2 separate regions of the Homo sapiens genome follow, and region 1 is linked to region 2. The links come from fine-mapping of genetic effects on gene expression. A gene starts in region 2. The other region holds a variant in brackets. All regions are shown on one strand. Distances are from middle to middle.

What was found.
Region 1: its variant is fine-mapped to the expression of AGBL5 in testis (GTEx, PIP above 0.99).

Annotation. Positions count from the first base shown.
Region 1 is chr2:26,113,519-26,128,524 of GRCh38, reverse strand. RAB10 (RAB10, member RAS oncogene family) reads right to left here. Exons shown (of 6, transcript NM_016131.5): 4 at 1,292-1,381; 5 at 574-675. Among named protein-coding and RNA genes, the nearest start is that of GAREM2, 52 kb to the left of the region's middle. The variant A/G (reference allele first, on the strand shown) is at 9,246.
Region 2 is chr2:27,041,845-27,056,570 of GRCh38, reverse strand. AGBL5 (AGBL carboxypeptidase 5) reads right to left here and starts at 4,903. Exons shown (of 15, transcript NM_021831.6): 1 at 4,778-4,903; 2 at 3,398-3,658; 3 at 2,998-3,169; 4 at 2,512-2,675; 5 at 1,764-1,941; 6 at 1,318-1,496; 7 at 433-889. The coding sequence starts at 3,612. It overlaps AGBL5-AS1 (AGBL5 antisense RNA 1), which reads left to right and starts at 6,307. Exons shown (of 2, transcript NR_046730.1): 1 at 6,307-6,391; 2 at 6,567-6,888. It overlaps TRY-GTA2-1 (tRNA-Tyr (anticodon GTA) 2-1), which reads right to left and starts at 5,789; the gene lies at 5,701-5,789. It overlaps TRA-AGC8-1 (tRNA-Ala (anticodon AGC) 8-1), which reads right to left and starts at 5,357; the gene lies at 5,285-5,357. RefSeq lists silencers at 4,403-4,452, 4,473-4,912, 5,316-5,610, 6,313-6,522 and enhancers at 4,649-5,148, 5,463-5,692, 5,863-6,152.

The DNA of each region.
Region 1 (15,006 bases), 930 kb after region 2:
AAAAAATAATTGAACTAGGGACTAGACAGTGACTGTGGAGCTCAGAATATTAATGGTTACCACTGACTAGATCCTTCAGATTTCTAGATGGCTTTCTGTTTCCCCAGTTCCTTATAGCACAAGTCCCCAACCCCGGGGCTGTGGACTCTTACCGGTCCGTGGCCTGTTAAGAACGGGGCCACCCAGCAGGAGGTGAGCAGCAAGTGAGTGAGCATTATTACCTGAGCTCCGCCTCCCATCAGATCAGTGATAGCATTAGATTCTCATAGGAGTGCAAACCCCACTGTGAACTGCACATGCAAGGGATCTAGGTTGCGTGCTCCTTAGGAGGATCTAACGCCTGATGATCTGAGGTGGGGTAGTTTCTGGGTGAAACTACCCCCCAGTACGGTCCATGGAAAAATTATCTTCCATGAAACCAGTCCTTGGTGCCAAAAAGGCTGGGGACTGCTGCCCTACAGAAACAATACCACCCAAACTCAAATTCTGTATGTAAATCCAGTACTTCAGAATAGACAAAATATTCAACAGAGATACTCAGGTACCTGGCAGGATATAAAAACAGGAACTTACCTTTCGAAGGATATCTTCAGCTAACGTGAGGAACGCCTTTTCGATGTTTATATTTGCTTTTGCACTAGTCTCAAAAAACCTAATACCATGCTCCCTTGCAATCTAAAACAGAAACAAAATATCATCATAAAATTATCAAGCATGGGTTGCCAACTGCTGACTTTAACAGCTTAAATATTAATCTTATTCTGAAGGCAGTGGTCCCAACTAGAATATATAACACAGAATATTTCAGCAAGTCAAGCTCTTTCATAAAACAAACAAAAGAAAAGTAATCTCCTTACCCCAAAAGTTTATTTCAGATATTCTAAGTCAGATACTTCACACTGGGGGCAAACTTATGAGAAGCTCAACCTGACTCCTCAGGGTCTAATTTCTGCTCACCATAGGCTCCTGATTGTCACATTTTAGAACCATACTAATTGATACATTTCCTTAAAGTCCTAAGTTTAAAAACCGAGGATTAATGACTTATATTTTTCTCTCTTTGTAGTTTAAATAAGGCTAAAAATACTATGGGCACATTTGATTCTCCCATACATGTTAAATATGCACTGAAAAAAAATTCACTCAAATGATAAAATATTATTTCCAACAAGCATTTTAAAAACTATGTAATTAGCTTAGTGTGTTCGATCACTATTACTATAAAAATAATCAAAAGTAGCATTACCTTTACAAAGACAGAGCAGAGTATCAGTTTAATTCAGATTTTTACCTGTTCTCCTTTTCCTTTAGGTACAACTCTTTTGTCGTCCATATCACACTTGTTTCCTAGTAACATTCTTTCCACATCTTCATTGGCATGCTAAAATGAAATAAAATTTTACTTTTACATACTACCATGAATTACGGCTTAACAGTCTTTAAAAGTGACTTTATTCTCTCAATTTAGAGGGTCATTTCTATAGCTTTGAAGTTTTAAAGCAGTCACCCTAAAACTACTCCATACTAAAAGCCTACACAAATTCTTAGATTACCTAGCAAAAGAAACGCAATTCCCAAGACATATCCATGTCAAATACTATTTCCTCCCTAAAGGAGGCTGTCTACTTTCTAGGTATGTTCTTTCTTACCAAAAGAGAAGATACAAGCAAAGAAACTTGCATAATCTAAATCCAGGCTGGATCATTTCAGATTTTATAATGCATACTACCCTATAGAAGCCTTAATTAAACATTTTATAGAGCCTTAAACTCTCAAATAGCTGTGCTGCTATGGCACAAGGAGGTCCATGCAGAAAAATCAGTTAAAAACAAGTGGTTGTCCCCTTAAGATCCCAATGACAATTTTTGCAGAAATAGAAAGATCTATCCAAAAATTCATATGGAATCTAACATCAAAAGAATCTCTCTTTTTGAGACAGAGCCTTGCTCTGTTGCCCAGGCTGGAGTGCAGTGGTGTGATCTGGGCTTCCTGCAACTTTCGCCTCCCGAGTTCAAGCGATTCTCCTGCCTTAGCCTCTTGAGTAGCTGTGAGTAGCTGGGACTACAGGTGTGTGTACTACCATGCCAGCTAATTTTTGTAGTTTTCTGGTAGAGATGGGGGGTTTTGCCATGTTGGCCAGGCTGATCGCGAACTCCTGGCCTCAAGTGATCCACCCCCATCGGCCTCCCAAAGAGCTAGGATTACAGGCATGAGCCACTGAGCCCAGCCAAAATAATATTAGCTGGGGGAGTCAAATTTCAGAACTTACTGCAAATCAAAAAGTGTGGAACTGGCATAAAGACAGATACACAGACTAATGGAATGGAATAGAGAGCCCAGAAATAAATCCTCACATACTTAGTCAAATGACCCTCGACAAGGATGCCAAAATCAGTCAATAGGGAAAGGACAGTCTTTTCAATAAATAGCACTAGGAAAACCAGATATCCACATGCAAAACAATGAAGCTGGATCCTTATTTTAAACCATATAAAAAAATTAACTTGAACTAGATCAAAGACCTCAAACTATAAAACTCTTAGAAGAAAACATAGGGAAAAGCTTCAGGACACTGGATTTGGCAATGGTTTCTTTGACATGATACCAAAAGCACAGGCAATAAAAGAAAAAGTAGTTAAACTGTACTTCATCAAAGTTAAAAACTACTGTGCAACAAAGGACGCTATCAAGAGAATGAAAAGACTACCCACAAAAAGGAGGAAATATTTGTAAATCATGTATTTGAAAGGGAATAATACCTAGAATATATAAAAAACACCTAAAACTCCTAACAACAACAAAAAATGACAGCACTTTGGGAGGCTGTCAGGAAAATTGCCTGAGCCCAGGAGTTCGAGACTAGCCTGAGTAACACTGTGAGACCTCATCTCTACAAAAAATTTAAAAATTAGCCAGGCACGGTGGTGTGTGCCTGTAGTCCCAGCTACTTAGGAGGCTGTGGTAGGAGAATCACTTGAGCCTGGGAAGTTGAGGCTGCAGTGAGCCATGATCATCATGCCTCTGTACTCCAGCCTGGGGAACAGAGCAAGAACCTGTCTGGAAAAAATTTAAAAAAAAAAAAAAAAAAAAGCAAGCAAAGGATTTGAATAGACATTTCTTCAAAGAAGATATACAAACAAACAATATGCACATGAATAGATGCTCAATATCACTAAGATTAGGAAATGCAAATCAAAAACCACAATGAGAGATACCACTACATACCCATTAGTATGGCTACTATTAAAAAAACAGAAAACACATATTGGCGAGGATGTGGAGAAACCGACACCTTTGTGTACTGTTGGTAGGAATGTAAAATGGTGCAATCACTGTGGAAAAGTCTGGTGATTCCTCAAAAGGTTACACACAGAATTATCATATGATCCAGCAATTCCACTCATGGGTATACACGCAGAAGAATTTAAAGCAGGGACTCAGATATTTGTACACCAGTGTTCACAGCAACATTATTCACAATAGTAAAAGGGTGAAAACAACCCACATATCCAACAATGGGTGAATGAATAAACAGAACATGGCATATAAAAACAATGGAATATTATTCAGCCTCAAAAAATAAACAAGTTCTGACACATGCTACAATGTAGATGAACCTTGAAAACTTTATGTTAAATGAAGTAAATTACTTACAAATTGAACAAATACTATATGATTCCACTTATATGAGGTACCTATAACAGTCAAATTCATAGAAAATAGAATGGTGACAGTTGCCAGGAGATGGGGAAAGGGGGAGACAGAAATCATTGTTTAATGGATGCAAAGCTTGAGTTCAGAAAGATGAAAAAGTTCTGGAAATGGATGGTGGTGACGGTTGCACAACAGTAGAATGTACTTAACACCACTGAACTATACACCAAAATAATAGTTAAAATGAAAATTTCATGTTGTATGTATTTCACCACAATTTTAAAAAGTATTCAAAAACAACAATAGGCTGAGCACGGGGGCTCATGCCTGTAATCCCAACACTTTAAGAAGCTGAGGCAGGAGGAGCACTTGAGCCCAAGAGCTCAAGGCTGGAGTGAACTATTATCACTGCCACTGCACTCCAGCCAGGGCAACAAAGCAAGAACCTGTCTCAAAAAAAAAAAAAAAAAAAAAAAAAAAAGCAACAACAACAATAAGAAAAACAACAGCAACAAAACTGCCAAATGGCTGCGGTTACTTCATTTCCTGTAGCTATAAGAAAAAAAAAAACTAGGAAAGTTATAAAATATGCTGATTTAAAACAACATACAGTTGACCCTTGAACAATGGGGGTAAGGGTATACCATGTATAACTTTTACTCCCCAAACACTTAATTAGTAACAGCCTGATGCTAACCAGAAGTATTATCAGTAACAGTCGATTAACATATTTTATATATGTATTCTATACTGTATTCTTACCATAAAGTTAGAGAAAAGAAAATGTTATTAAGAAAATCATAAGGAAGAAAAATATATTTACTATTCATTAAGTGGAAGTGGATCATCATAAAGGTCTTCATCCTCAATGTCTTCAAATTGAGTAGGCTGAGGAGGAGAAAGAGGAGGGGGTTGGTCTTGCTGTCTCAGGGAAGGCAGAGGCAGAAGAGGTAGAGAAGGTGGAAGGGGAGGCAGGCACACTCAGTTTAACTTTACGGAAAAACATTGTAATTTCTTTTTTGCTTTTTCATTTCTTTAAAAATATTTCTATACAAAACCAATCCTTCTTTCATCATTTGCTTCAGTTTCAGTGCCTGTATCACACAATGGTCCATGTTGTACAGTAAGTCTAAAGCAGTCTTGAATAATCAGAACCCTTCTGCCAGATTGTCTACAGTCAATTTGTTTTCTGGCACTACTTCTTTGCCTTCTTCCTTATCGTCCAACGCTGGTTTGGAAGCACCGGCATCTTCATTAAATCATCTTCTGTTGATTCCTCTGGTTGATGTCTATTAGCTCTTGTCTTATCCACAGTCTCTTTCATAAATTCCTTGACTGGCTCTGCTACAAATCCTGTGAAATCATGCTCAACATCGGTACACAGTTTTCTCCAGCAGGAAGTTACTGTTTTGTGCTTGATGGCTTTCATGGCTTTTTCTATAACGATGGCATCTTCAGCGGTGTAATTCCTCCAGATTTTCATGATGTTCTATTGAGGTTAGAGTACCGTGTGTTATTAACCTTAAAGGTCCTCATGATCCCCTGATCTAGATGCTGAATTAGAGACTGTGTTCGGGGGCAAGTAGACCACTTCAATGTTTTCGGTGTTAAACTCATGGGGTTCTGGGTGGCCAGGGGCACTGTCCAACATCAAAAGAACTTTAAAGGGCTGTCCCATAATGGCAAGGTATTTCCTGATTTCAGGGACAAAGTATTGATGGAACCAATCCAGAAAAAGGATTCTCAGTGTTCAGGTCTTCTTGTTGAATGATCAAAAAACTGGCAGCTTCAAAAGACTTTTCCCTTCAGGTCTTGGGGGTTAGCAACTTTATACGTAAGGGCAGTCAGTCCTGATCATAAACCCAATTGCATTTGCACAGAACAGTAGTTAGCCTATCCCTTCCTGCCTTAATTCCCTGTGCTTTCTTCTTTTCCTAACACTCATGTCCTTTGTGGCCTGCCCCCCTCCCTGCCACCCCGAGAATAGGACACTTTTAACTGCATTAAAGACTTGTTCAGCGGTGCCCAGGAACTTGTCTGCTGTGTCTTAGTCAGCAGAAGCTGCTTCTCCTGTTAGCCTGCCATTTTTAGGCCAAGCCTCTTTCTAAAATTATCAAACCATTCTTTGCTGGCATTAACTCCTCTAGCTTCTCTTCCGTTTTGCTTTAAGTTGTCATATAATAACTTCACTTTTTCTTGAATATCATAGTCTACAAGTATGCCCTTTTTTTTTGTTTTTTTTTTTGAGACAGAGTCGCTCTGTCGCCCAGGCTGGAGTGCAGTGGTGTGATCTCAGCTCACTGCAAGCTCTGCCTCCCGGGTTCACACCATTCTCCTGCCTCAGCCTCCCGAGTGGCTGGGACTACAGGCGCCCGCCACCACGCCTGGCTAATTTTTTGTATTTTCAGTAGAGACGGGGTTTCAACGTGTTAGCCAGGATGGTCTCGATCTCCTGACCTCGTGATCTGCCCGCCTTGGCCTCCCAAAGTGCTGGGATTACAGGCGTGAGCCACCGCGCCCAGCCTACAAGTATGCCTTTCTTATAGCAATCCTGTACCCACATAAGAGCTGCATTTTCAACATGAGATAAAAAGGTATTCTGTAAAAAGTGCAAGGTTTCACACCTCCTGCTGTGGCTGCAGTGATGGCTTCACAAATTTTCTTTTATTTAAAATGGTCCTTATGCTGGATTAATTTATCTTGAAATAACGGGCAACCACAGCTGCAGACCTCATTCTACAGTACATATTAAGCAATTCAATTTTTTCTTGTAATGTCATGACTTTTCTGTTTCTCAGGATTGCTTCTGGCATCACTAGTGGCACTTTGTATAGGTCTGATGGTGTTATTCAAGGTTTATGGTATTGCACTAGACACGATGAAAACACGCAAGAACCACAAAAGACCTCTTTTGATTGCAATATGGGATTTACTGGAGACACAAACTGTTCACGGGGAGATGATCCACATCACATGGTGTTTTAAGCAGACACTTGGAAACATACGAGCTCACCAAAATAGCAACAGGAGGTGGCTACAAAATTATCACAGTAGTACAGTATGTATTAGTTATTTTTATGCAATTATGATTTAATACTGCATCTCTGTTACATTTCTCTTGATGCAAAAGGTGCCTTGTATGGGCTCTGTGTGTTTGAGTGTTAATAAATTTAAACTTTTAATAATAGATCTGTGTATGTTTTATGGTAGTAATAAAATAGACTAGTATCTACATATACTTTAGACATTCATAATATACTTAACTTTTTCTTAATTTCCCCCCCGCCCAATATTTCTAGGTTATGTGGCTTGTCTGTGAGTTTTTCAAGTTGTTGCAAGTCTCTAACATTTTTTCCAAAAGATTTGTTTTTAAAAACCTGTTTATAGAGCTGGGTGTGGTGGCACACACCTGTAATCCCAGCTTCTTGGGAGGCTGAGAAGGAAGAATCACTTGACCCCTGGAGTTTGAGACCAGCCTGGGCAACACTGCGAGTCCCCATCTCTTTAAACAAAAATATCCATGTGTAAGTGAACCTGCAGTTCAAGGGTCAATGACAGTTTAAAAGGGGGTAGACAAAGGTGGGATTAGGGAGGAAACAACTCTTTTGTTGCAAGGACGATACCCTTAGTAGAATCACAAGCTTAACAAAGAAAAATTATACCGCATGTGGTGGCTCACGCCTGTAAAGCCAGCACTTTGGGAGGCTGAGGTGGGTGGATCACATGAGGTCAGGGGTTCGAGACCAGCCTGGCCAATATGGCAAAACCCTGTCTCTACTAAAATTACTAAAATTAGCCGGGTGTGGCGATGCACGTCTGTAATCTCAGCTACTTGGGAGGCTGAGGCAGGACAATCACTTGAACCCAGGAGGTGGAGGTTGCAGTGAGCTGAGATGATACCACTGCACTCCAGCCTGGGTGACAGAGCAAGACTTTGTCTCGGGAAAAAAAAAATTATAATATACTATAAAGAAACTCGCTGGCTGGATGCGGTGGCTCATGCCTATAATCCCAGCATTTTGGGAGGCCGAGGCGGGCGGATCACGAGGTCAGGAGATTGAGACCATCCTGGCTAACACAGTGAAACCTCGTGTCTACTAAAAATACAAAAAATTAGCTGGGTGTGTTGATGGACGCCCTGTAGTCCCAGCTACTCAGGAGGCTGAGGCAGGAGAATGGTGTGAACCCGGGAGGTAGAGCTTGCAGTGAGCCAAGATAGCACCACTGCACTCCAGCCTGGGCAACAGAGCGAGACTCCGTCTCAAGAAAAAAAAAAAAGAAACTCCCTATTTAGGGATTCCATGGTCTTATCTGAATTTAGTGCCTCTTAATTTATGTTACTGCTAAAACAAAGGCAACTTGGCAAATATCCAGTAATAAGCAGCAATATACCAGGTGCTCCTAAAATCCTGCCATGTGCTAAAAGTAAGAGGCATTTTGATCTCAGAATCTAAGGATGGACTTCGGGGACATCAATAATTCCAAGGAGCACACATAAAACTTTGCAAGTTGTATAAGTACATCATTCTGGTAAGATTCTAATTTCTCAAAGGGGTCCATGATCCCAAAGAAGTACAGAAGCATGGTTTTAAAAGCTCCCAGCTGCTAAATGGACAAATTATCACAGTGACCTGTAATAATCTACCCACATCCTAAACACTGCAAGTTACCAGAGCCACTAACATGAACCTCCACTCAAAGAGAAGATAAATTATCTGTAGCTTTAGAAGTCACTGTTCTACTAAGAACACCTGTAAGTTAGGTGCAAGCAGGCTGATGGAACGAAGCCGAAGCCAATAAATAAATGATCAATGAAGTATAAAAAAGGGAAAATTACCTTATATATAAATTTATAAGTGTTAAGATATTTTCAGCCTGTTTTTTAAAAAAGCTTTAGCAATCAGACCACCAATTTACAACCTACTACACCTCCACGCCAACTCACATCAGTATTCTGGGGCTAGTGAGGAAATAGGTATAATTCTTTATACATGTGTACCATTTCAGAGCATAAATATAATTCTAGCTCAAAAATATATTTGAAAGTAAGCCTGCTGGGCACAGTGGCTCATGTGTATAATCCCAACATTCTGGGAAGCCAATGCAGGAAGATTGCTTGAGCCCAAGAATTTGAGGCCAGCCAGGGCAACACAGTAAGACCCCATCACCACAAAAATAAAAATTAGCCAGACATGATATAGCACGCTTGTGGTCCTAGGTACCTGGGAGGCTAGGCTGGGAGGATAGCTTGAGCTCAGGAGGTAGAGGCTGCAGTAAGCTGTGATTGTGCCACTGCACTCTAACCTGACAGAGTGAGACCCTGTCTTTAAAAAGAAAAAAAAAAAAGCAAAGCTAAGACCTGAAAAGACTTGGGATACACTTCTTTGAATAACAAAACACAAAAACTAAGACAAAGGTCAAAATAGTATTATACAACTCTTTTTAAAATTTATTTTTTTTTTGAGACAGGGTCTCGCTGTGTCACCCAGGCTGGAATGCACTGCTATAATCAGCTCACTACAGCCTTGATCTCCTGGGCTCAGGTGATCCTCCCACCTCAGCCTACCAAATAGCTGGGACTACAGGTACTC[A/G]CCGCCATATCCGACTTTAAAAAATAAACTTTTTTAGTAGAGATGAGGTCTTGCTATGTTGCTCAAGCTGGTCTCGAACTCCTAAACTCAAGCAATCCTCCCACCTTGGATTCCCAAAGTGCTGGGATTACAGGTGTGAGCCACCGTGCACAGCCCTATACATCCTTACTTGGATGATCTTACTAACAATAAGCAGCAAGCATGATGAGGTTAAAGACTTCACTGCTGAGCCAGGGGACCAATAAAACAGCACTCAGAATACACAGAACTTCTCTCATACATTTTCTTATGCCAACATGCACATTAATCTTTTTTCAGTCGGATACGCATTGTGTTTACAACCACTTACGGCAAAAACACCCAAAGAAAGATTGGTAGTTGCACCACACAGACATATCCATAAAGAGACATGTTTATGCAGGAGGACACATATCTCTATGAATCACACATGCAGACTGTAACTAGCTTAAAATATGGTTAATTTTCCCAAGGTACTAATACAGAGAGGTGCATTTAGACCAAGGTTTCTCAACTTCGGCCATACAGACATTTTGGGTCAGCATTCTGGGTTAGCATTCTTCTTGTACCCAAGCTGTGATAACCAAAAATATCTCCACATATTGACAAATGTAAAACTGTCCTTGACTGAGAATCACAGATTTAGAGATCACTGTCTATCATTAAATAGAAACAACAAATACTTTAAAAGGATGTTGAAGTTTAATAATAATGAAACCATTCAGAAACCAATATATATTTCACAAATATAAGCCTCATAGTTGTTCTGATATTTGACTAGGTACATGAGAACCTGTTAATTCCCCACCCCCACCCCACCCCCGGCCTTTGTTTTTTTTTAAAGCACTTATTTGCCCGGGAGGTCTGGGCTACAGTGGGCTGTGTTCACACCACTGCACTCCAGCCTGGGAAACAGTGAAACCCGGTCTCAAAAAAAAGGGGGAGGAGGGGACGTTACTTTGTAAAAATTGGAGCTAAAAGAACATCTTTTTGGCCGGCGTGGTAGCTCACGCCTGTAATCCCAGCACTTTGGGTGGCTGAGGACGACGGACCATGAGGTCAGGAGTTCGAGACTGGCCTGACCAACATGGTGAAACCCCGTCTCTACTAAAATTACAAAAATTAGCCAGGCGTGGTGGCACACGCCTGTAATCCCAGCTACTCAGGAGGCTGAGGCAGGAGAACCACTTGAATCCGGGAGGTGGAGTTTGCAGTGAGCTGAGATTTGCGCCACTGCACTCCAGCCTGGGCAACAGAGCAAGACTCCGTCTCAAAAAAAAAGAACATCTTTTTATATCTATTAGAGAAATAATCTGAGACTTGGGTTTCCTAAGGATTTGTCCTTCCTAAGCTAAGTTATTTGGTCCAAAGTACGTTTCTCTAAATATCTCTATAGCCAAGGTAGTTATGTTCCCCAGTTACCCAAAGTAAATTAACATATATGATCTCTCTTAAATTGGAATCCACTGCACTTTTTTATCAGTCCCATCTTTATCTGGGTAACTTCTCATCTCCTCAGGTCTCAGTTTAAAGTCGCTCCTCTCACCTCCCAGGCTATGTTAGTTAGGTACTTGTTTTATTTACATGTTAACAACTTTGTACTTCCTAACTCTTTTGTTTTTTTTGTTTTTTTTTTTTTTTTGAGACGGAGTCTCGCTCTGTCGCCCAGTCTGGAGCGGAGTGCAGTGGCACGACCTTGGCTCACTGCAAGCTCCGCCTCCTGGGTTCACGCCATTCTCCTGCCTCAGCCTCCTGAGTAGCTGGGACTACAGGCACCCGCCACCATGCCCGGCTAATTTTTTTTCTTATTTTAGTAGAGACGGGGTTTCACCGTGTTAGCCAGGATGGTCTCAATCTTCTGACCTGGTGATCCGCCAGCCTCGGCCTCCCAAAGTGCTGGGATTACAAGCATGAGCCCCCCGCACCCGGACCTTCCCAACTCTTAACACTAAGTAGGGGATCATTTATGTTGTTTACGCTGCATCCCCAGCCTAGTTCAAAAACACTGATCCCAAGAGTTGTCCCTTGATGTAAAGTTTCACCTCAACAAGTTTCAAAACCTTCATATAATAACTCCCCCTCTTGGACATTCGCAACACACTAAAGCATATAAAAATTGAATAAAAATACCTATTTAACGTATTTGTCCACAGAATGTCATATGCCAAGTAATACTACTAAAAAGTAGAACACGCTTCAGAAAACACAGATTTAAGAGTATATAAATTCTTCTTATCTCTATTCCAAGGAACAGAAAACTTGTATTTGTCTCCTTTTGCTAAAGAAATACAAAGAGTGGCACAGTGGCACATGCCTGAAGTCCAGCTAACTCAGGAATTTGAGACCAGCCTCCTGGGCAACACAGCAAGACCCTCTCTCTTAAAAAAAGAAAAAGAAAAAAAAAAAGGCCGGGCGTGGTGGCTCACGCCTGTAATCCCAGCACTTTGGGAGGCCGAGGTGGGCAGATCATGAGGTCAGGAGATCGAGACCATCCTGGCTAACACGTTGAAACCCCATCTCTACTGAAAATACAAAAAATTAGCTGGGTGCGGTGGCGGGTGCCTGTAGTCCCAGCTACTCGGGAGGCTGAGGCAGGAGGATGGTGTGAACCCAGGAAGCAGAGCTTGCAGTGAGCTGAGACAGCGCCACTGCACTCCAGCCTGGGCGACAGAGCAAGACTGCGTCTCAAAAAAAAAAAAAAAAAAAAAAAAAACACAAGACAGAAAGAAAGAAAAGAAATACAGTCTCCATGGGGAATGGCTGATTGGTTCCAGGACCCTACTTCCTTTATCAAAATCCATGCATACTCAAGTCCTGCAGCCAGCCCTGTGAAACAGACATATACAAAGAAGGCTCCACACCAACCTATATTATATGTGAGTATCAAAATTCATATTTTCAATCTGCCTTTAGTTGAAAAAAATGTATATTAAGTGGACCTGTGAGTCAGGCATGGTGGCACATGCCTGTAGTCCTAGCTACCAGGAAGGCTGAGATGGGAGAATTATTGGAGCTCAGGGTTTTAACACCAGCCCGGGCAACATGGTGAGACACCCATCTCAAAAATATTTTTTAATTAAAAAATATTAACAACTGGTGGGGCGCAGTGGCTCATGCCTGTAATCCCAGCACTTTGGGAGGCCAAGACAGGTAGATCACGAAGTCAGGAGTTCAAGACCAGACCAGCCTGACCAAGATGGTGAAATCCCATCTCTACTAAAAAATACAAAAAAAATTAGCCGGGCGTGGCAGCATGCACCTGTAGTCCCAGCTACTCAGGAGGCTGAGGCAGAAGAATCACTTAAACCAGGGAGGCGGAGACTGCAGTGAGCCAAGATGGCGCCACTGCACTCCAGCCTGGGCGACAGAGCAAAACTCCGTCTCAAAAAAAAAAAAAAAAACAGTAATAACAACTCTACCTGTGTAGTTCAAACCCACATTGTTCAAGGGTCAACTGTAATTGTAAGGAAAGGTATTAAAGCTCAATTCAGTTTTTAAAAAAATAACAGTTTTGAGTTTATAATTTACATATCATAAAATTCACCCTGTAAAAATATACAATTCAGTGTTTTTTTAGTTATTTACGAGGCAGTTCAACTATCACCACTACTAACTTTATAATATTTTTATCACTCCCCTATAAACCTGTACTCATAGCAACCACTCTTTTCTCTCCAAACATCACCCCCAGCACCTGGCAATCATGAATCTACTTTCTGTCTCTATGTTTTTGTCAATTTGGGGCATTTTATTTAAAGGGAATCATGTAAGGCCTTTTATGTCTGGCTTCTTTCATAAGGTTTTCAAGGTTCACCCACACTGTACCAAGTATCAGTCCTTCATGCCTTTTAATGGCTGAGTGATGTTCCCTTATATGAATATACACATTTTATTTATCCATTCATCAGTTGATGGATGTTTGGGTTGTTTCTGGTTTTTTTTTTTGGCTATTGTGAACAATGCTGCTATAAATACTTGTGTACACCTTTTGTGGATATATATTGTTAATTCTCTTGGGTAAATACCTAAGAGTAGAACTGCTGGTCATAAGGTAACTGTATGTTTAACCATTTTGAGAACTGCCAAAATATCTTCCAAACCAGCTGCATCTTTCTACAATTCTACCAGCAATATATGAGGGTTACAATTTCTCTCCATCTTTGTGAACGCTTGTTAGAGTCTGTCCTCTTTTCTTCCATTCTGTGGGTTGGCTTTTTACTTTCTAAATGGTAGAACCTTCAAAGCACAAAGGTTTTAAATTTGATGTAGCCCAATTTATCCATTTCTTTTCTTTTGCCACTTCATGGCTTTAGATCTTACATGTAGGTCCATGATCCTTTTTGGTTTTTTTTCTTTTTTTGAGACAGAGTCTCACTCTGTTGCCCAGGCTGGAGTGTAGTAATGCAATCATGGTTCACTGCAGCCTCGACCTCCTGGGCTCAAGTGATCCCACCTCAGCCTCCCAGATAGCTGGAACTACAAGTGCATACCACCATACCCGACTAATTTTTTTTTTTTTTTTTTGTATATTTTTGTAGAGATGGGGTTTCACCATGTTGCCCAGGCTGGTCTCAAACTCCTGGGCTCCAGCGACCCACCCACCTTGGCCTCCCAAAATGTTGGGATTACAGGTGTGGGTCACCATACCCAACCTTTGTGGTCCATTTTGAGTTAACTTTTCTGTATGGTATGAAGTAGGTGTCTAACTTTCATTCTTCCACACAAGGATAGCCAGTTTTCCCAGCACCATTTGTTGGAAAGACTATTCTTTTGCCCATTGAATTGTCTAGCCATCTTGTTAAAAGTCAACTGACCATATATGTAAGAGTTTATTTTTAGACTCTCAATACTATTCAATCAATCTTTATGACTATCCTTATGTCAGTATCACAGTGTTTTGATTATTGTGGCTTTGCGGTTAAGTTTTAAAACCAGAAAGTATAAATCTTACAACTGTGTACTTCCTTTTCAAGATTATTTTGGCTACTCTGGGTCCCTTGCCTTTCTATATTAGTTTTAGGGTCAATTTGTCAATTTCTACGGGGGGGAATTTTTAAAAAAGCAATTGGGATTTTGATAGGGATTGCACTAAATCTGTAGATCACTTTGGGTAGTAATGCCATCTTAATATTGTCTTCCAATTCACAAATAATGGCTATCTAATTATTTAGATCTTTAATTTCTTTCAACAATATTTTGTGGTTTTCTGTGTTCAAGTCTTACACTCTTTTGGTTAAATTTACTCCTAAGTATTTTTTGCCTTTTGATATTATTACAAATGGAAATTTATTCTCAATGTAATTTTTAGGTTATTGCTAGTGTACAGAAATAAAGCTGATTTTTATATGTTGATCTCATTTCTTGTAACCTTGCTGAACTTGTTTATTAGTTCTAAGAGTTTTCTGGGTATATGTTTGTGGGTTCTTAAGGATTTTCTATATAAAATATTCTACCATTTATAAATAGTTGTTTCACTCTGGATGGCTTTTTTTCTTTCTTTCTTTTTTTTTTTTTTTTTAGCTCTGGCTGGAACTCAGCATAATGTTGAACAGAAGTGGCCAGAGTAGATATTCTTGCCATGCTCTTGATCTTAGGGGACAGGTACAATAATAGCTGTGGTATTTTTATAGATGTCACTTACAGGATTAAGGAAGTTCTTTGCTATTCCTAGTTTGTTGACTTTTTTTTGAGACAGAGTCTTGCTCTGTCGCCCAGGCTGGAGCACAATGGCACGATCTTGGCT
Region 2 (14,726 bases):
CAAGGAAGAGATAGCAAGTATGTGACCATGTGACTTAATACACAGCAGATACCATCACAACCATTAACAGTAATCAGTGCTGCCTGAATTCTCAGTTTGACATTACTTCTAGGTGTTGGGAAGCAATTCTTTTTTTTTTAAGCTTTTAGCTTCCTCCCTCCAACAATGCAAAATTTTCCTTCTCTGGATTCCCAGACTCTAGCAGACTATAATGCAGTTAGCTTTCCTTAATAAAAGGTCATGATGTAACAATTGAGACATTATCCCCCTGTGCCATCTCTTCTTGGCCCTTCAAAGCTTTTTCAGAGGTAGTCTACACAGGCCTTCCTTCCAGAAAGCTACCTAAGGCTATCTTCCTTCTGTTCATGGCCTAACCCCATCTCCTAACCTGTAACACTTCTCACACTCACATGACATTCTTAGGATTCCCACCTGGGTGCTCTCATCACTAAAGCTGTTTCCGTACATGAAGCAGCCCCTTTTGGAAGCATGTCCATGCAGGTCCACATAGTAAGCAACGCCACTCTCTTTGGGGGGGATGGTATCAGGGGCTGACTCTTCAAGCCCCGCAGACTGTTGTGGCATAATCCACACACTGTTGAGCTTCTGTTCTGCTGGCTCTGTTTGTTTCCAGGCTTCAGCGTTATGCCTGTCAGCTGAGTGCCCACACTGAGCTTCATTTTGGAGATTGTTGGCTTTCTCCAGGTCAGAAACAGGAGCATCAGGAGGGAGACAGGAACTGGGCTGGTGCTCAGAGGAACTCTGGGAGTTCAGACGAGAGTGCACATGGTGGTAGAGAAGCACAGCTTTGGCCCCATAGATGGCCGGGTGCAGGACGGCATCAGGCTTCAGGTACTGACGGTTCAGATTCACTCCACGTGAGTCTGTGCTGTAGGAAAACAAGGACTGAAGCAGGTTCTAGAGGACTGGGCCAGTGAAGGAGACACTAGTGTAGATGAAAAGGAGACCGTAGGAGACTGACTTATCAAATGAGAGGCTGAAGCTATGTTAGGAAAGAAAGAATTGAAGACAGGGCCTCTCTTTGATCTGCTGTCACCCTTACCATAGAACCCTAAGGAGCTTCCTCAGGGTAGCTGCCTCCACCCAGATGGGCCTGCAGTCATCCTAGTTTGGTTCCTTTCTGGGAGTGCCACTAGATATGATCTCATGCTTTCTCAGGAAGATGAGATGGGCTTGCCTTTATTAGGGTGCAAGAGGACTGGGAACACAGAAGCCAGAAGGCTGACAGAATTTCACTGAGATGCAGGGCATGAGGGGAAATGGGAACAGTCCAGACAGGCTGGGGAAGCCACTTACCGGTAGTGTCCCCGGACCACACCATCGGGGTTCAACATGGGAATCAGCTTAAAGACGAAGAGGCGACGGAGGGTTTGGGCCCGGGGATCATCAGGTCGGAGGATGAAGTCCAGAAAGCCATTGAAGACAAAGCTAGATGGAGTCTCCCCTGGGTGTACTCTACTGCTTAAGAAGAATATCTGAGGTAGAGAGGAGAGCAGACATTAAGTCAGTTACCCTGTAGTTCTACTTTGACAGTATATGGGGGGTGTCATGGATGAGGCAGGAATAGCCGCTGGATTTCCAGCTGGCTGAATCTGCAAGTGGAGCAGGGGCCATCACCCTTGCCGCACGCTGCGGGCGGAGGCCATGTCCAAGATGCCTAGAGATAACATAGTCTTTAGCTATAAACAGTACCTGGTGCTAGAGAAAAGCCAAAGAACTACCTTTATGCTATTTCCACTCACCCTCTTGCCTGCGAAACGGAATGGTCGAGGGGTGCTGGTATCAGGAAATAGCTGCTCTAGACGGGGCTCTCGATCTTCTCGAAGCCCATGGCAGGAAGTGATCGTCAGCAGATCTACACGAAGTCCATCCAGAGAATAGCAAAGGAGCTCCCGATGGTAATAGATGGTATCCAGGGGGCTACAGGGAAAAAAAAATTAAGCCAGGAGAAGTCCCTAAAGTCCTAGTAAGAGGTAGGCCTTGTCACCAGCCCAGGATCTGTAAAATCTGGTCCTTCACCCTAACCTTTGGGGCCTTATAGTCCCTCACAATGTTAAATGAGGCTAAGGATTTGAGTGGGTTTACATTGCCAGAATGAAGAGTACAGGACAGGGTGAACTTGTTGTTCCCCAGTTTGTGGCTTCCTAGAATAGATTACTTAATGTAGTCGGAGTTGTTCTCCGTGGGGGCAGATAAAAAAGGTATACTGAGTCACATAATGCTGGCTAAACTCTGGATAATTAATGGGAGCTGGGCTAGTAAGAGGTCTGAACTGGGCAGGTGAAAGAGTGGAGGGCAGGTGTCGATATGCTGAGATCAGGGTCATACAGAAACATAGTTTTCAAAGGTACCCAAAGTCCTGTCTGTACATTCTGTACAGAAAAAAGACGGATGAAAGTATGGTTCAGAGCTCTAAGAGCAAATTCCAGAAGTAGTGGAGGTGCTGTCTGATCCAGGACTGTGTGGCAGGAGTAAGAATGGGGCTGGCACCTGCTATGGGTAGGGTGGTTCTCCGGAAAGCGCTGGTCTAGCTGGTTTAGCAGTTCCTGGCAGTCACTGTAGGAGAAGGGGTAGCAGAAGGCGAAGAAGGTGGTGGCCCCACGGCCCTCCACGAAACGATGAACAAAGGATAACACAAACTGCGTCTCTGTCATCTGAAGAGCAGAGGAGGAAGAGGGAGGGGCAACATGCCATTGTCAGAACTGAGCTCCTACTGGGACCACCAGGAACTGACCTCACACCCTTATCACCTTTACCAACTTCCCTCCCTGTGACACTTTCTATATGAAAAGTGGCTCCTTCTAGGCTTCCTGAGGCAGGGGCTCATCTTGGACTCTAGCTAACACTGGAGAAAAAGCTGATACTTAAACCTGTTGTCCCACCTGCTTCATACTTGTATCAAGGAAAAAAAAACGCTTTACTTTCCTCTCTACTTTTAGCACCCAAGTCTTTCTTTCCTCCTCATGGAGAACTTACCTCAAAGGTGGGCCGGTCTCGAATGCGTTCCCAGCGTGGCCGGGTGGGCAGTGTGCGCACAAAGGGGGCCATGCCCTGGGAATACAGCTTGCTCTGCTTGTTCATGTTCATAATGTTGATCTTGATGAGTTTTCCTGGCATTCCTCCCCGGACGCTGAAGTAGAACCATGACCTGAGGACCAGAGTAAGAGAGAGGTCATTACGTGTGGAAGGGTTGGAGATATGGTCTGTGGGAGAGCCGGAGCCAGCCAAACTGGGAAAGGGCTATTTGGCAAGGAGAAAGGAGGGACGATGGGTCAGAAATGGACAGGGAGTATGCTGGGTATGAACAGATAAGTCAGAGGGCTAACTGAAGCATGGGTTTGGAGCCTTTTTCCACCCTCCATTTCGTTCCATATACCTGTTCCCATTCTCAAATTCCGTTTCAGCACAGTCTGGTCGGGTCCACACGTTGAATTCATAGTCAGGGGAAGAGGCAATGCCACTGGTCAGGGCTGACGCCCCACCTCCTACCCCTTCCCCATCACTGGACAAAGATTCCACCTTCTCCACGTGGGCTAGATTCCCTGAATCAAAGCGAGAACTGAACAGCAATCCCCCACAGCGCAGCTCCATGGTGGGGCTGGGAAAGCATCCTCCTGCCCCGCTCTGGCCCTGAGAGCTGGGGGAAAACAAGGGTTAGGTTAAGGAGGAAAGGGAAGACAAATCGAAGAGTTTTCTGGGTATCTCTTGATAAATAAGAGCTATTCTTAGGGAGTGCCCTATGAAACAAAAGGCTGTCTCCCTCTTAGAAAACATAGAAGTGGTCTTCCAGCAAAGGCCAAGAGAAAGCAGCATTCTGTACCCCAACACTAAGGGTTGTAAATGACCTAAAGGGACCCCATTTTACTTTAGCTTGGCTGTTCCCAAATAAAACTCAGTGGCTTAACTATGTTGAAAAACACTAAACTCTCAGCTGCTTTGCAGCCCAAAGATTAGAGAATATAATCAGAGAGGTCAGATTTTCCAAACCTAGCCAAGATACACTCACCACCATACATGGCCACCTTTAGAGATGGGCCGTTCTGGATCTCTGGCTCTGCACTCTCCAGCACAGAGCAGAGAGAGGAATCGAGGTTCTGAGTGTAAATGGGTAGTCCTCTCTCCAGCCTCTGTCCTCACAAGTACTGAGCGGACATTCTGGTGTTGCTCCCCTGAGCCCTGGAAGGGCTGGTTCTTCCTTTTTTGTTCCTACCTTATGCCTAGTATGGAGAAAAACTATAACAGTGGTGCCTCTGCCAAGCCAAAGGCTACTGGGCTCACCTAGCGACTGGAGCTCCCTTCCAGCCAGGGCATGGGTCTGTTTCCATCCCCCTCCGCCCCGTAAGCACTGCACCCTGAGAAAGCTACCCTAGTAGCTGTGGATGAGTAATGGGTGTTCTCAGCACCCCTAAAAGAGGTGGGCTGCTAGAGTCCCACTCGGGGGAAGGAGGCTGGCTTCTCCACCCTCGACTCGCGGGGAACCGTCACACCGAGCGGGCTTGCCCTGGGCAGGGTGGGACTGGGAGGCATGGAAGGGGTCGAGACGGGCTCCCGCGGCAGGGGATTAGGCAGGGAGGGCCTAGGAGTCAGAGGTGAGGCCACGGAGCTGGGCGGGGTCGGGACCGCGTAAGCCAGGTCGGGAGCGGGGTGCGGGGTGGCCTTCGAGGGGCTCGGGCTCAAGGGGCTGAGAGAAGGGGGCGGGGCCGGGGCTGGCGGGGCCGGGGCTGGCGGGGCCCGTAGTCCGCGCAGAGCCCCTCACCTCTCTCCGGGCCGGTGATCCCGCTCCCTCTCCCGCTAGCGAGGCCGCACCTTGGGCCCCGGCACCCGGGCCCTCCACCCGGGCCCCCAAAAACACCCGAGCGCCGCGGTGCCGGGACCCCGCTCTGCCAGGAAACAAGAAGTCTCTCGCCTATTGGCCGTGGCTGCAGCTGGCGACCCGCCCAGTAAAGCTCGCTACCATTGGTCAGCTCTCAGGGTTCCTCGCACGTTAGTGGGTACCTGAGCGAGTGTCGTTCGGGGACGATGGCGGGCAGGAGCGGCCGGAGGGTTCTAGCAGCGTCTTCCGGAAGACGGTTAACGGCCTGCCTGCCGGGAGGCGGGAAAGATAAAGCGGCAGAAACTGGGACTCAACTGCGAAATAAAAAGACATCGTGTGAAACTCCTTATCGCTTAACAGTCTTGTGTCTCTAAAATGAAACACGTAGCCCACTGCGCCGGGAATCCCTCCCGTTTTGTGTTCTGTAGTGTGACGGACGCAAAAGCTGAGTGGAGGATGCGGGCATCGATCCCGCTACCTCTCGCATGCTAAGCGAGCGCTCTACCATTTGAGCTAATCCCCCGCCTGCTGCTTAGTTCTTTCCCTTTGCCTTACAGGTTCACTGCACTGTTCACTGACCAGTGGATCAACCACAGTTCAGGACATTTATTTAGCAGAGTACAATACAGTGGCATCCATGTGCAAGATTCTAAAAATCAAGCATATAATCGTGTGCTTAAGCAGAAAACATTCTAAAACACGTTACCACATGTACATTGAACGCAGAAAGAGCGTTACCGTATACTACATACTACGGTGTTCCCTATGGACTGACGGCAGTACGAATGCTAAGTCACAGGAGGCCTCCAAGCCTTTCCCCTTATGGGATAATTGAATTAAATTGAGGTTAAAAATTACAGACGAAGTCCTTCGAGCCGGAATCGAACCAGCGACCTAAGGATTGCCACGCCCTATCCACTACAGTCCTCCGCTCTACCAACTGAGCTATCGAAGGCTCCGCTGCGATAAGATGCTGCTGATAGCCCTCTAATGCTTACCGCAACCTCATCCAGCCATGACCCCCGCTTTCTCCAGCTGAAGGAACCTGCCAGGGCAGGAGACCCATGGGACCTCACAGAGCTGAGAAAGCCGGAGACCCAAAGGCAAGGAAAAGAAGCTGCCCAAAGTCCGGGTTCTCAGGCCAGAACGGAGGCCACACCGGCCCTGAGCTTCCCGGCTTTTTAACAAAATGTTCCCAACACCCCGCGGTGGTTTCTCCTGGACCGCGAACGCCGAGCCCGCCGCCGCCTCCTGGAGCTCCGGGGCAGCGCTTGTGCCGCGGTACCTGCACTCACAGGGGCTTTGCGACCGCGACGCGCAAACCCTGCTCGAGAGCCGATGGGCCACTTTGGCTGCTCCTGCTCCACATTTCCCTTGGCTTCTCCGGACGTGCTCTCCTGACGCGAACGACATTCGCTCGGCCAATTAACTCAGGTTTTGTCAGGCTCTATTCGTCCTGACCAGTGCAAGAGAGACGGCGACCGCGGGGTGCTGCAGGCTTCGGCGCGGCGCATTATCGGGCTGTGCCGAACCCCCCGGGCCGCCCTGGGATCGCGGGCCTGGCGGCGTGGCCCGAGGGCTCGGGGAGAGGGCTACGCGCCAGGAGAGGGCGGCGGGGCTGCAGTACAGGCTTTCCTGCCCTCGGAAGCGCTCGCAAGCCTGGGGGATTCCCCTGCGGTAGACCTGGGATGGTGGGCGGCGCGCGGCCGGGTAGGTCCCTGCAGCCTCCGAGGCCCACGTGAGGTCGGGGTCGGGGCGGCTGTACAGTGCCCAGCACAGGCCACTGGCCTCCCTTGTGGGTCTTTGCACAGGTCCGCTTACTCTCGGAAATCTTGGGTTCCCCAGGGCCGGGGAAGGGTCTTCTGCCTGGTCTGGGGCCCCTCCCCCGACACTGTGGATGTCTAGGTGTCCCGGGTGGGGTCAAGGAGTGACCCCACGGGTTCCCCCATCTTTGTCCCTATCCAGCTCACACCTTCGCCTGTCTTTTGCATGTGTTTTTTCCACAACCTTTTGTTCACCGGGTTTTTAACAACAGAAATAAACCTAACCCCCAACTCCTCTGTGAAGCCCTGCTTGGTCGTCCTGTGGGGTGGGTGTGCCGGAAGACCTGGCCTCAATTTCCAGCTCTGGGCCAACGTCCTGTGCTACCTTGAGCCAACATCGCCCGCGAATCCAGGTCTGGTGATGCTTTCTAGCCCCTTGCAGCTCCAACATTTGATGGGTTCTCTCGGGCTGAGCTTTAAATCCGAAGTTTCTAGATATAAAGTTGTGTCAACATTTAGATAGAAGAATATAGAAGATCTGCATAGCTTTTATTATTCAATATCAAAAAATCACATTCATGGCCAGGCGTGGTGGCTCACACCTGTAATCCCAGCACTTTGGAAGGCCGAGGTGGGCGGATCCCCGGAGTTCAAGAGTTGCAGACCAGCCTGGCCAACATGGTGAAACCTGTCTCTACTAACATACAAAAATAATTAGCAGAGGATGGTGGCGCGCGCCTGTAATCCCAGCTACTCCGGAGGCTGAGGTGGGAGAATCGCTTGAACTCGAGAGGCGGAGGTTGCAGTAAACCGAGATCGCGCCACTCCAGCCTAGGCAACAAGAGCGAAACTCCGTCTCAAAAAAAAAAAAAAAAAAAAAAGCAGCCGGGAGTGGTAGTGAGCTCCTACCACTCCGGTAATCCCCAGCAACTCGGGAGCCTGAGGCAGGAGAATCGCTTGAACTTGGGAGGCGGATTGCAGTGAGCCTAGAGTGCGCCACTGCACAACAGCCTGGGAGACAGAGAGAGACTCTGTCTCAAAGAAAAGGCCACACGCGGTGGCTCACGCCTGTAATCCCAGCATTTCGGGAAGCCGAGGCGGGTGAATCACCTGAGTTCAGGAGTTCGACACCAGCCTGGACAACATGGAAACCCCTTCTCTACTAAAAATAAAAAATTAGCCGGACGTGGTGGCGCATGCCTGTAATCCTAGCTACTTGGGAGGCTGAGGCAGGAGAATCCCTTGAACCCAGGAGGCGGAGGTTGCAGTGAGCCGAGATCGTGCCACTGCACTCCACCGTGGGCGACAGAGCGAGACTCCGTCTCAACAAACGAACAAACAAACAAAAACCTCTCAACAGAAAGAAGTCCAGGATCAGAAGACTTCCATGTGAATGCTACCAAACATTTAAAGAATTAACACCAGTCCTTTTTTTTCTCTCAGATCACTAAATGAAGGTAACACCAATCCTTTCAAACTGTTCGAAAGAATAGAAAAGAAGGGAACACTTTTTAATTGATTATATGAGGCCAGCATCATTCTGATGGCACAGCCAGACCAAAAGACCACAAGAAGACTACAGATCAACATCCCTTATGAATATTGATGCAAAAATCCTCAACAAAATACGAGCAAACTGAATCCAATAGCATATTAAAAGGAGAAAACCATGACCAAGTTAGACTTATTGAAGGAATGTAAGGGTGTTCAACATAAGAAAAATAAATAAATGTAGGCCGGGCCTGGTGGCTTACGCCTGTAATCCCAGCACTTTGGGAGGCCCAGGTGGGCGGATCACCTGAGGCCAGGAGTTTGAGACCAGCCTGGCCAACACAGTGAAACCTCATCTCTACTAAAAATACAAAAATTAGCTGGGCATGGTGGTGCACGCCTGTAATCCCAGCTACTCGGGAGGCTGAGGCAGGAGAATCACTTGAACCCAGGAGGCAGGGGCTGCAGTGAGCCGGCCACTGCACTCCAGCTTGGGAGACAGAGGAAGACTCCATCTCAAAAAAAGAAAAAAAGAAAAATAAATCAATGTAATATACCACATTAATAAAATGAAGGAAAAAAACTACATTATCTCAATTGATACAGGAAAGGGTGACAGAATTCATCACCCTTTCATGAAAAGTAGAAACTCAGAAAACTAGAAATAGAAACGAACTTCCTCAGCATGATAAAGAACATTTATGAAAAACCCACAGCTAACATAAAACTCAACGGTGAAGGTCAGGAACAACCACTAAGGTCAGGAACAAGACAAAGATGCCTACTTTCACTGTTGCTACTCAACATTGTACTAGAATTTCTGGCCAGAACAACTAAACAAGAAAAAGAAATAAAAAGCATCCAACCTAGAAAAGAAGAAATAAAACTATCCCTATTTGCAGACTATATTGTCTTATATATAGAAAATACCAAAGAATCTACCAAAAAACTATTAGAAGAAAAAAAAACTATTAGAGAAAATTCAGCAAAGTTGCAGAGAACAAGATCAACATGCAAAAAAACAAATTGAGCTTCTTTACACCAATAATGAACAGTCTGAAAGAAAATTAAAAATGTAACTTCTGGGCGTGGTGGTACATGCCTGTAATCCCAGCACTTTGGGTGGCTGAGGTGGGAAGATGGCTTAAGCTCAAGAGTTCAAGACCACCCTGGGCAACATTGTGAAACCCCATTTCTTAAAAAAAATACAAAAATTAGCTGGGCATAGTGGCGTATGCCTGTAGTTCCAGCTACTCAGGAGGTTGAGGTGGGAGGATCACCTGAGTGCAGGGAGGTTGAGGCTGCAATGAGCTGTGATCAAGCCACTGCACTGCAGCCTTGGTAACAGAGTGAGACCCTGTCTCAAAAATAATAATAATAAAATAAGGCCGGGTGCGGTAACTCACATCTGTAATTCCAGCACTGTGGGAGGCCTAGGCGGGAGGATCACTTGAGGCCAGGAGTTTGAGATCAGCCTGGCCAACAGGGAGAAACCCTGGTCTCTACTAATAGGAAGTGGTGGCTTACATCTGTAATCCCAGCTACTCGGGAGACTGAGGCAGAATTGCCTGAACCCAGGAGGTGGAGGTTGCAGTGAGCTGAGATGGCGCCACTGTACTCCAGCCTGGGCAACTGAGTGAGACTCCGTCTCAAAACAATAAAAAGTAAAATTAAAAAGAAAATAAGAAAAATATTTACTACCTGGAAACTAAATCTTTCTCTTTGGTGGGAGGCATCGTAACTTAAAATATGTGTAGTAGGCTGGGCGTGGTGGCTCATGCCTGTAATCCCAGTACTTCGGGAGGCCAAGGCGGGCAGATCACGAGGTCAGGAGATCGAGACCATCTTGGCTAACACAGTGAAATCCTGTCTCTACCAAAAATACAAACAATTAGCCGGGCGTGGTGGCACATGCCTGTAGTCCCAGGTACTCGGGAGGCTGAGGCAGGAGAATTGCTTGAACCCGGGAGGCGGAAGTTGCAGTGAGCCAAGATCGCGCCACTGTACTCCAGCCTGGGTGACAGAGTGAGACTCCGTTTCCAAAAAAAAAAAAAAACAAATGTGTAGTAATTTCCATGGAGCTGTCTGGGACAGACTGGATATCTCCTGGCCTTCCAAGTGAGGTGAGCTGTTAATAATAGCACCCACTCATATATCTGAAGAGTATATCTATGGATGAAGTCTAGGGTATTTGGAAATATATAAACTATGAAAGGTGTAAATATGTTTTATTGTAGATAATGTATAAGATAGCTATTTAAAACAACTGTAAAAGCCACAGAGTGGGAGAAAATATTTCCAAAAGACATATCTAATAAAGGACTGTTATCCAAAATATACAAAGAACTCTTAAAACTCCACAATAAGGGCAGACACAGTGGTTCACACCTATAATCCCAGCACTTTGGGAGGCAGAGGCAGGAAAATCGCTTGAGGCTGAGAGTTTGAAACCAGCCTGGGTGACACAGCAATGTCTACAAAAAAATTTTTTTGAATTAGCCTGGCGTGGTGGTGTGTGCCTGTAGTCCTAGCTACTGGGGAAGCTGAGGTGGGAGGATTGAGGTTGCAGTGAGCTATAATTGCACCATTGCACTCCAGCCTGCGTGACAGAGCAAGACCCTGTTTCTTAAAACCAAAACAAACAAAACAAAACAAAAAACCCTCAGCAATAAGAAAATGAACAACCCAATTAGAAAATGGAGAAAAGATCTGGACACCTCACCAAAGAAGATATACAAATGGCAAATAAGCATATGAAAAGATGCTCAGTTTCACTAGGGAATTGCAAATTAAATATCTTCATCCACCTATGAGAATGGTGAAAATCCAAAATACTGACAAAACCAAATGAAGATGCATAGTAATAGGAACTCTAATTCACTACTGATGAGAATGCAAAATGGTACAGCCACTTTGGAAGACAGCTTGATGTTTTTTACAAAACTAAACATACTCTTATCATATGATCAATTGTGCTCCTTGGTATTTAACTAAACGTGTTTGAAAACTTATGCCCACACAAAAACCTAAACTCAGAGGTTTATAGCAGCTTTACTCATAATTGGGAAACTTGGAAGCAACCAAGATGTCCTTCAGTAGATGAATGGATACACTGTCGTACATCCAGACAATGGGATATTATACAGTGCTAAGAAGAAATGAGCTATCTCGCCATGAAAAGACATGGAAGAATCTTAAAGACAAATTACCAAATGGCCGGGTGTGGTGGCTCATGCCTGTAATCCCAGCACTTTGGGAGGCCGAGACAGGTGGATCACTTGAGTACAGGAGTTTGAGACCAGCCTGGCCAGCATGGTGACACCCTGTCTCTAGCAAAAATACAAAAATTAGCCAGGGGTGGTGGCACGCACCTGTACTCTCAGCTACTTGGGAGGTTGAGGCAGGAGAATCGCTTGAAACCAGGAGGCAGAGGTTGCAGTGAGTCGAGATTGCACCACTGCACTCCAGCCTGGGTGACAGCGTAAGACCCTGTCTCAAAAAAAAAAAAAAAAAAAAAAATTACCAAATGAAAGAAGCCAATCTGAAAAGGCCACATAGTATGATTTTGACTATATGGCATTCTGGAAAAGACAAAACTGGAGAGAGTAAAAGATCAGTGGTTCCTTCGGCTCTGGGGGAAGAAGGGAGGGAGGAATAGGTAGAGCACAGGAGATTTTCATGGCAGTGAAACTCTTCTATATAATGGTGTATACATGCTATTGGACAGTTATCAAAACCTACAGAGTGTACAACGCAGATAGCGAACCCTAATGTAAGCTATGGACTTACATTATGGACGATGTGTCAATGTAGGTTCATTGATTACAACAAATGTACCACAGCAGTATGGGATGTTGATGGTGGGGGAGGCTGTGGTGGGGGCGGGTTGGGGAGGAAATATATGGAAACTCTCACTCAATTTTGATGTGAACCTAAAACTGCTCTAAAAAATAGTCTATTCAGGCCAGGCATGGTGGCTCATGCCTGTAATCCCAGCACTTTGGGAGGGCAAGGCGGGTGGATCACCTGAGGTCAGGAGTTTGAGACCAGCCTAGCCAACATGGTGAAACCCCCTCTCCACTAAAAATACAAAAGATTAGCTTGGCGTGGTGGCGGGCACCTGTGGTCCCAGCTACTTGGGAGGCTGAGGCAGGAGAATCACTTGAACCTGGGAAGCGGAGGTTGCAGTGAGCCGAGATCACGCCATTGTACTCCAGCCTGGGGAACAAGAGCAAAACTCTGTCTCAAACAAACAAAAAAAAGTCTATTCAAAAATTAGTAAGTGATGTGCTAACACAAAAAGAAGTTATATCAAGGCACATCCAACAACACATTCAAAGTCAACATTTGTATTAATAGGCAGAATAGTCAATATTTACTAAATATTCACTCATACCCTGAACAGTGGACACTCCCTCCAAAATCCTTCTTATACCTCAAGTAGAGCACCAAAACTGCCCAGTATAAAGGGAATACACATAGGGAAAAGCAAGGCCCTTTCTCCCCTCAACAACTGTGAAGGGTATGTAGTAAAAACAGATCACTCTAAGTGTCCACTTAAATTTAAACTCCTTTAGGTGAGGTAAGACAACAAAATGCTCAGAGGTCATTGAACCACTGAAATGTCTGTATAGGGCCGGGCACGGCGGCTCATGCCTGTAATATCCCAACACTTTGGGAAGCCAAGGTGGAGGATCACTAGAGACCTGGAGTTTACTGATTATATGAATCAATGAACCTATAATCAATGGGACCAGCCTAGGCAACATAGTGAGGAGCCATCTCTACAAAAAATTTTTAAAAAAGGAGGCGGGCATGGCACGCATCTGTAGGCCCAAATACTCGGGAGGCTGTGGTGTGAGGATCATTGAGCCCAGGATTTTGAGGCTGCGGTGAGCTATGATCACGAACCACTTCACTCCAGCCTGGGCAACAGGGCAAGACCCCGTTTCTTTAAAACAAAAAACAAATGCCTGTGTAATTGACACTGGGTCATTCTGTAACAGGGCAGGGCAGGTGTGCCTGGCTCTGTGGGAAACAACCCGCCCTCTTTATGGTGGTGGCATTTTGTGAATGGACTGACAATGTAGCAGGCATGAGCTCAGCAACACTATCTGCCTAGTGACATCCATCGTAGTAAGTCAGGCTACCCATCAAGCTGCCCTGCTCTAGAACTGAAGTGTGGATTGGATACAAATAACCAGAGAAATCCAGAAATCTGCTGGAGACTTAGGAAAACGAAAGGATGTTTCAAAGTGAGTCATGCATATTATTTTCAAGTCCACAAAAGAACTGGTAATAAAGTTAGTAAGAAATAAACATACTCATAACTGCCCTTCAGCTTTATGGTGTGTTATCGGTTGAACTTCAGCTGTGTGGAGTTACTGTCCAGATGTGTGACTCTCTGAGGTGTCAGCTCCTTTTGGTTCTTCCAATAACAGCAATAGTTACAGTGTGACTGCCCCACCTGTCAGCATCACTGTCCTATGCTGGTTCAATTTACTGGCCCCGCTTGGACTCCTGTTTGTTGACAGCTCTGCAAAAATGAAATGTCTGGACATCTGGTTTTGCTTTAATGCAGAGCAGGTGCGTATTGGACTAGTCCACCACACAGGAAAAATTTCCGACAATTTCAACATTGGGTCAAAAAACTGTATCTATCGAATAAAGTCAATTAAGCTGTCAGTGTTCCTGTAAGTAGAGACCACAATTAATCTAAGTTGATGAAAAATGTTGCTCCCCAGGATTTTAGTGTCAGAAGTTAAATGAACCCAGCAAGGTAAATATAGTCACACATTAGAAGCCAACACAGCACTTGTGGCATCCTTGGTTCGCTGGATGCAGCCTTGGACTTCTACAACAGTTATCACCGAACTTGTCCTCCCTGTGCCATTGTCAACCCATTCTCACAACTGCCACCTTTCTCCAACTCACCTTGAACACAGGCCAGTTCTCCTGCCCAGCAGTCCTAAGACTTTGGCCCTTTGCCAGGTAGTTTCTCTTCTCCAGGAAGATGGTCATGGTTAATTGCCACTAGGAGAGCAAGGGGTCTGCTTGTGGGCTAATTCCAGAGGAAACGTAGCGAACACGAGATGCTGTTGTATTCATGACCTCACTTTGGGTCGATACTTTCCTACATCTGCTACTTTATATTCGAACCACTGAAAAAGCGGAGTGTCTCAGGGCACCGTGTGAGAGGGGAAGTGATAACTGGCCATCATACCTGCTGAGTGTCATGGGAGTTTATGAGGGAAGCTGAATCTGCCTTTGAGAACTGCTAGAGCGTATCTCTAGTACTGCTGACTTGAAACATTTAAGGAAACAAAATTGAGAACTAAGAAACCAGCAGAGTTATCTAACTCCTTATAGTCTCAAGTCAAAAATAAAAAGGGGCTTCGGTGATAAACCTTGGACTCATGTGTCCCTTGGAGTTCTAAATCTTTCACTCACTGCTCTATAAAATGAAGGTCCTGGCAAGGAAAGGACACCTCCTGGTCACTGGCCAAGAATTCCCCTAGGAGACGGCCCCCTGCTTTTCTAAGCGTAAAACTATCAAGGCAAATCTGGGACGTGAATCACAGTGACAAGTCAGACACTATAATTAGGGTAGCAAGAGAAGTGTCTAGAACACCCACCAG